2 linked regions of the Homo sapiens genome follow. The protein of the gene in region 2 interacts with the protein of the main gene of each other region in a biochemical or structural test. Each region holds a gene or a part of one and is shown on either strand. Other genes may lie near its edges.

The links.
Region 1: the proteins of JAG1 (region 2) and NOTCH3 form a complex in vitro, tested with the Homo sapiens proteins (one study listed by BioGRID).

Annotation. Positions count from the first base shown.
Region 1 is NC_000019.10:15,187,269-15,191,080, forward strand, and holds part of NOTCH3 (neurogenic locus notch homolog protein 3 precursor), read right to left. Parts: intron 2,161-3,812; coding exon 2,005-2,160; intron 1,907-2,004; coding exon 1,721-1,906; intron 1,081-1,720; coding exon 967-1,080; intron 727-966; coding exon 613-726; intron 71-612; coding exon 1-70. UniProt on the Homo sapiens protein: Functions as a receptor for membrane-bound ligands Jagged1, Jagged2 and Delta1 to regulate cell-fate determination.
Region 2 is NC_000020.11:10,642,916-10,646,727, forward strand, and holds part of JAG1 (protein jagged-1 precursor), read right to left. Parts: intron 3,170-3,812; coding exon 3,056-3,169; intron 2,555-3,055; coding exon 2,441-2,554; intron 2,342-2,440; coding exon 2,228-2,341; intron 2,065-2,227; coding exon 1,948-2,064; intron 1,470-1,947; coding exon 1,442-1,469; intron 949-1,441; coding exon 863-948; intron 1-862. UniProt on the Homo sapiens protein: Ligand for multiple Notch receptors and involved in the mediation of Notch signaling. May be involved in cell-fate decisions during hematopoiesis. Seems to be involved in early and late stages of mammalian cardiovascular development.

The sequences.
Region 1 (3,812 bases), on a different chromosome or scaffold from region 2:
CAGCGACCATGGTGGCATGGGTCAGGGGAGCAGTCGTCCACGTTGCGATCACACAGCGTGCCCTCAAAGCCTGTGGGGCCAAGAGGGTCAGGCTCCGCCCACTTGCCAGGGGCCTGCCCACAAGTGAGGCCTCGGACCAATCCTGGTTCAGCTCTATCTGAGGCCCTGCCCATCAAGCTGTCAGGAGGCGAGCTCAATACAGGCCCCACCCCCCACCCCCCACTTACTTCCACTCCACCCCACTACAAGCTCCAGAATTTGTCCCTAGCCAAGACTCTCCCACAGTTAAATCCCGCCCCCAGCTGTGGCCCCACCTCCAGCCCTGTTTCTGCCCCACCCTCCACTGGAGATGGGAGCACATGGCAGGTGCCAGGGGAAGGTATTGGGCCCTCCCCATTCAGTTACAGGCACCCTGTGCCCAGCCCAACACTTTGGCTCCACACGTAGCCTTATGTCAGTCTATATGCATTATTGGCTCCACCCCCCAACTCTGTCACTGGGTCCTGCCTTGCTACAACCCCGCCCCCAAGCTCTCCCCAAGTCTGTTATTGGCCCTGTCGCCCACAAGCCCCGCCTCCTGATTCTTGTCGGACTGTCATTGGCCCGCCTCACCCTCGGCACAGCGGCACTCGTAGCCATCGGGCTGGTCCACGCATTTGGCGCCATTCCTGCAGGGCGTGCTGGCGCATTCGTCCACGTCCAGCTGACACGTGGAGCCGCTGAAGCCTGGGGTGGGGAGTGGGATGAGCAGAGGCCCAGAAAGGGTGAGAGCAGTACACCCCTCTCCAGCCCCGCCTTGTTTGGGTGGAAAAACCCATTTACTTGGATTTAAATTAACTTCAATGTTTCATAACATATGGTTTCTATTGTAAGTTATCCGCTAACGTGGTTTTACAGGTTCCCACCCTGGAGTTTTTGCCCCTTCCCAGACATGTCTTTTCGGGCTCCCTCTCCTGAGGTCCTCACCCGAGGGGCAGGTGCAGCTGAAGCCATTGACTCGGTCCTTGCAGACCCCACCGTTGACACAGGGGCTACTCTGACACTCGTCAATGTCCACCTCGCAATAGGTTCCTGTGAAGCCTGGGGCAGGGAATAGGGCTTAGGAAAGCGGGGGCTACCCTATGGTGTGAACGGGGTGCAAGGAAGGAGGTACTTCCCTTCCTACTCATCGACAAATCCCCCGAGCCTTCGTCCCCACCTCTACACTCCCAGCCCAACCTTAATTTTCAGCCACAGGCTGGACTGTCACCCAGCCGTGGTCCCAACTGGCCCAAGGCTCATGGGTGTCCGCAGAGGCCTTGCCTTCAAACCCCTCCTCCTCTCCCCAGTCCTCAGACTAAGCCCTTTCCCCAGTCCCCAGCCCCCAGCCCCAGGGCCCCCCATAGCCTTTGCCCAGGCTTACTGCAAGCTTGTCTGCAGGCTTCACCTTGACCTCACAGCAGCCCCGACTCTGCCTCTCTATCCCCAACCCCTTCCCGAGTGGGTCCTAAGGCCAAGAATACTCCCAGCCCACCTGAGGTTCTACTGACTCCATTTGACCAAGCCCCCAGAATCACACAGTATTCCCTTCTGGTCCTGACCCCACCTCCTTCCAGGCTTCAGTCTCTAAGGGTCCCACTCCAAACCCACTTACACCCCATTCTGCTCAGCTCCCCATCCGCGGGCTTCTCTGTCCCCGCCCCCTGCCTCAGGACCCGCCCAGGCCACGCCCACCACCCACCTGCCATACAGATACAGGTGAACTGGCCTATGCGGTCGAGGCACGTGGCCTGGTTTCGGCAGGGCCCCGACAGACACTCGTTGACATCGGTCTCACAGCGAGGTCCAGTGTAGCCACGACCGCACTGGCACAGGAAGGAGCCCTGCGTGTTCACGCACCTGCCCAAGTGCTCGCAGGGGTTGGCGCCTGCCGGATGGAGTGCGATCGGTGTGGGCGTGGCTGGCCGGGACCCCCTCCTCTCCCCTCTTTCCCAGCCCATTCACAGACGATGGAGCTCCCCTCACCGATAGAGCACTCGTCCACATCCTGGTCACATGCCCCACCCGTGAAGCCGGGAGGACAGGTGCAAATGGCCCGGCCGTTCACCGGATTTGTGTCACAGATAGCATCCTCGTGGCAGGGGTTGCTGACACAGGCGTCATCCAGGTGACACAGGAGGCCTGGGAAGTGGTAAGCAGAAGTCATAGGCAGATCTTCCTGCTCTGCCCAAAAGGCCCACACCCCTTGAGTATTGTTTTGTCGTTGTTGTTGTTTTGTTTTGTTTTTTGAGACGAAGTTTCGCTCTTGTTGCCCAAGCTGGAGTACAATAGCGCGATCTTGGCTCACTGTAACCTCCACCTCCCAGGTTCAAGCGATTCTCCTGCTCAGCCTCCCGAGTAGCTGGGATTACAGGCATGTGCCACCACGCCCGGCTAATTTTTTGTATTTTTAGTAGAAACGGGGTTTCACCAAGTTAGCCAGGTTGGTCTCAAACTCCTGACCTCAGGTGATCTGCCTGCCTCAGCCTCCCAAAGTGCTGGGATTACAGGCGTGAGCCACCGCGCCCGGCCTGTTGTTTTTATTAAACCTAAACAGTATTTAGTAGCTGCTTTTTTAATCCATTTATTATGAGAACTATCAAACATACAGAAAAGTTGACCATTCATATACCCACCACCTAGATTCAACTATTGTTAGCTTAATCTACCAATCTTCTTTTCTAAACCATTTAAAAATAAATTGCAGACCGGGCACAGTGGCTCACGTCTATAATCCTAGCACTTTGGGAGGCCAAGGTGAGTGCATCGCTTGAGTTCAAGAGTTCAAGACCAGCCTGGGCAATATAGTGAGACCCGTCTCTACAAAAAATACAAAGCTTAGCCGGGCATGGTGGCGCACGCCTGTAATCCCAGCTACTTGGGGGACTGAGGTGGGAGGATCACTTGAGCCCAGGAAGTCGAGGCTGCAGTGAGCTGAGATCATGCCACTGTACTCCAGCCTGGGTGACAAAGTGAGACTCTGTCTCAAAAATAAAATAAAATAAATTGCAAACATCCACATATTGTTTTAAAACCTTTTGACTCTTCTGATTACAAAAGGGTCCTACACTCCAGCCTTTGCTTCTGTAATACCCTCTGCCATGTATGCCCTCTTTCTATATCCACGTTCCCCTCCTAAACATGTTCTCTGATCTTTGCCACTTCCAAAGGTAACTCCCAGGAGTTCCCCATTCCAATGGCTTCTGCCCTGAGCCATGCATCAGTGCAATGTCAGCCTCCTCCCAAGCCTCTCCCAGGCTTACACTTCCCCACTAAAGCTGCCTCCAGCATCATCTTTTTTTCTCTCTCTTTTTTGTTATACACGGTCTTACACTGTCTCCCAGGCTGGAACGCAGTGGCTCAGTCTCAGCTCACTGCAACCTCCACCTTCTGGGCTCAAGCCATCCTTCAACCTTAGCATCCAGAGTAGCTGGGACTACAGGCATGCGCTACCATGCCCAGCTAATTTTTTGTATTTTTGGTAGAGATAGGGTTTTGCCATGTTGCCCAGGCTGGTCTCAAACTGCTGAGCTCAAGCAATCTACCCGCCTGGGCCTCCCAATGTGTTGGGGTTACAGGCGTGAGCCACCACACCCAGCCTACCAAGTTTTTGTAGAGATGACAAAAACTCACTATGTTGTCCAGGCTGGTCTCAAAGTCCTGGGCCCAAGCGATCCTCCCATCTTGGCCTCCCAAAGTGCTGGGATTACAGGCATGAGCCACTGTGCCCGGCCTAGCATAATCTTTTTTTTATTTTTTAAATTTGAGAAGGAGTCTCACTCTGTCACCCAGGC
Region 2 (3,812 bases):
ATCTTAGGCTTTGTGGGGTATATAGTCTCTGTCACAACTATCCAACTCTTGTGGTATCATGAAAGTAGCCATAGACAATACATAAATGAATGTGTGGCTGTGTGCCAAGAAAACTGTATTTATAAAAACAGACAGTGGGCTGGATACGGCCCCTGGGCCACAGTTTGCCAACTGTTTATTTAGAAACATGAAACAGATACAACCTGCCCCCATCTAGTGCTGAAGACTAGTTAATCCCAGACTTGGATTTCAAGCACCAGTAAAATTTCAGACAATTTGGGTACAAGAATCAAACCATAACTACTCTAGCACCTTTTTTGTTCTGTAAGAGAAAGGGCTTGTAAAAAAGTAGAGAAAAGGCTCAAAATAATATGCTTTAAGCCTCTTGAAAAACTGCGTTGCCTGCCCCTATTTTCCTGTTTTAGTCATTTCTCCAGGGCCTGATCAGACCCAGCACAGACAAGCCTCTGGAAGCCACAGTCGTCCTCCCTTCCGTTTGTATTAGCTTTATCCTATACCAGTGTAGCTGTGGTTAACATCTGCTTGCCCATAATTTCATGTTAGTCATGGGGAAATGCACATACTTTCTTCAGGACCCCACTGTAGATTAATCATCAGATTCTGTGACTGGCACTCTCTCCCCAAGAACAAGGAGGGCTACACCACCCAGGGAACTACCAGCAGGTACCTGGGAGGATCCAGCCTGGCATATCTTAATCCCAGCTGGAGGAGAGAGATCCTTTGCTCTATGAGAGCTACTTAAAGGGAATGGTGGCTTTGTTTTTAAAGATGAAAGTCTTGGGGTGAGGCATGGAATGAAGCGGTAAAGCCATTGGGAAAACCAGACGGAGACAGTCCTTACTTATTCTGCAGTCGGGCCCAGCAAAACCCGGGGCACATTCGCACCGGTACCAGTTGTCTCCATCCACACAGGTGCCGCTGTTGTAACTAAGAAAGCAAAGACCACCTTGGTTACCAACCTCCCAGTCCATTACTCTGGCTGCCAATCACTCACATGTCACCACACCAGTTACAGTCAGTGGCTCTCACCCCATGGCCGTTGCCTGGGGAATTTTAAAAGAATACTGATGCCTGGGTCCCACCCCCAGAAAGTCTAATTTCACAGGTCTTGGTTGCAGCCCAGGCAGCGGGATTTTTAAAAGCTCCCAGGTGATTCTGGTGTGCAGCCAAGGTTGAAAAATCACTGCTCTAAATGAGGACACAACCTGGCTAATTAAAGTGTGGTCCATGGGGCAGCAGGATCGCTTCACCTGGGAGCTTGTTAGAAAAGCAGTCTGAGGCCCCACCCCAGACCTCCTGACTCAGAACTTGCATTTTAAACACAATCCCTGGGTGATTCTCACACACACACACACACACACACACACACACACACACACGATAGTGGATGAGTGCTGGCTTAAAAGGATGTCACACTTACCAGGGATGAGGGCTGCAGTCATTGGTATCTGCAAAGAAAAGACAACTTAATAGTGAGGACTTCAACAGGGAAAGCGGTCTTAGCCCTAAGTAAAACCACCACTTATTTTCCTAATACCCAAATGATAAAGTCGTAGTTAACACCAGCAAAATACCTTTGCTAAATTGGAACCAGGCCCGCACCACACTTAGTTTCATTTGCTGTGGGACACATGTACACAGGAAGAGGCCCTGGTAGGGGATAGGGGTGGGGGTGAGAATGGAAGGAGACAGGCTGCTGGTCAGACCCAGAGCTGGGAACTGAGACGCCATCTGTCTCCACTTATCTTATTGGCGACTTTCTCATGCCCAGGTCAGGGCTGTATCCCATCAAGTCATTAATGCAGACCCAGGTGATACAAAAGCAGACATCAAACAGCTCTGCTTCTGGTTTCCATTGCAAGTCCCCAAGGGTGTCAGGATCTGCTCCGACAGCCCTGGGAGAGTTCAAGGGGGGAGGACACTCACTCTGAGCACAGATGGGCCCCTCCCAGCCTTCCTTGCAGACGCACGTAAAGGACTCGCCGTTGACCACACATGTGCCCCCATTATGGCAGGGGTTGGGCAGGCAGCTACTGTTTCGGGCTATAAAAGAAGAGCAGACACGACCACCCTCCCTGAGTATCCAGAAACAGTCTGGAGGGGCAAGAACCAGGCCCAGAGAAATATCATAAGCTCCAGGGGCCAACCAGCAGACACGCCCAGGTGGCCATGCCCACTGCAGATCCCACGTGGGGCATAAAGTTACCTATGTTACAGGTTGTTCCTTCCCAGCCGCCAGGACACATGCACTTAAAAGCATCCCCCTCATCATAGCAGGTGCCACCGTTGTTGCACGTGGCCTCATCACACTGACTGTCACCTGGAGGAAAATATTTCAGTGTGAGTCCCAGTGGCCCCCTCCCACAGAAGACAGAGGGAAGGGTCCCAGAGATAGCATCCAAGGCCAACTACCACTTACGTGAGTGGCAGGTCTTTCCTTTCCACCCATTTTTACAGTCACAGTAGAAGTCATTGACCAGGTCGCGACACGTGCCCCCATTGTGGCAGGGGTTCTGGCTGCAGTCATTAATATCTAGAATCAAAGGGGAGACAATCGGCTGAAGACGAGATCCAGGACCATTCACGACAGGCGAGAGCCAAGCCTTTCCTACTGCTTACATCCAACATCCTATTCTGAGAACAGCCACAGTCGTAGTACTTTAACACAATCAGGCTTTTCCAGGAATAAAGGAGCTCCCAACTGGGTTACTTTGAATGCCACAAGTTAGGCAAGATGTGGGGTGGGCCTCTGGAAGTCCCATGGAAATGAAAGTAGAAATATGACTTTCCTTGCAAGCAGGAATATTTATTACACAGTCTAATTCTATAGGTCCTCAGCAGAAGCTCCTCCCCATAAGCTATCATCAGGACTCATAAATGCAAATGAGACACAAGTGATACTGTCCCAGTGCAGAAATCACTGCGGTCTTGCTTCCAGAGATTTCCAGTACAAAGAAAGTTTTCCCACGTTGAAGTGGGATCCCTCCAACATGACCCATACATCCCAGAGCTCCCCAAAGAGTGGCAGACTCACTGGTTTCACAGTAGGCCCCCTCCCAGCCGTCACTACAGATGCACTTGTAGGAGTTGACACCATCGATGCAAGTGCCACCGTTTCTACAAGGGTTGCTCTCACAGTCATTAATATCTATGAAACAAAGTAAAGCAAAAAAAGAACTGAAGGACTTGTGAAGCCATAGACAAGCACTGTTCAGCAGTTTTCATGGCTCCCTCCTGACACAATGCACCTGGCACCTCCACCTGCTACCCTCCATCAGGGCTGTTTCTCAAATTAGACAGGCGGCTTATCAAGCAGAAGCTTCCAGAGAGTGCCTTACCCACTTAATGCCCTCACATGGGCATTTAGTCACCGGTACTAGGTGAAAGTGGGGAAGAAACTCCTACAGAAAAGAGGAATCACCCAACCTAGCAACATTCCAGAATGTTCCAACATAGATATGGAGGCTCCGAGGCAGAGTGATCTGGTAAATTGAACACGACCTCAGTCTTAGATCCCAGATGTAAGGATAAGTCTCAACCAGTCTCCCCAGCCTTACTGTTTCTGATTAAAACAATTTCAACACTGCTGGGCATGGTGGCTCACACCTGTAATCCCAGCACTTTGGGAGGCCAAGTTGGGGGTCGGGGGGTGGATCATCTGAGGCTGGGAGTTCGAGACCAGCCTGACCAACATGGGGAAACCCCATCTCTACTAAAAATACAAAATTAGCTGGGCGTGGTGGGCGTGGTGCGCATGCCTGTAATCCCAGCTACTCAGGAAGGCTGAGGCA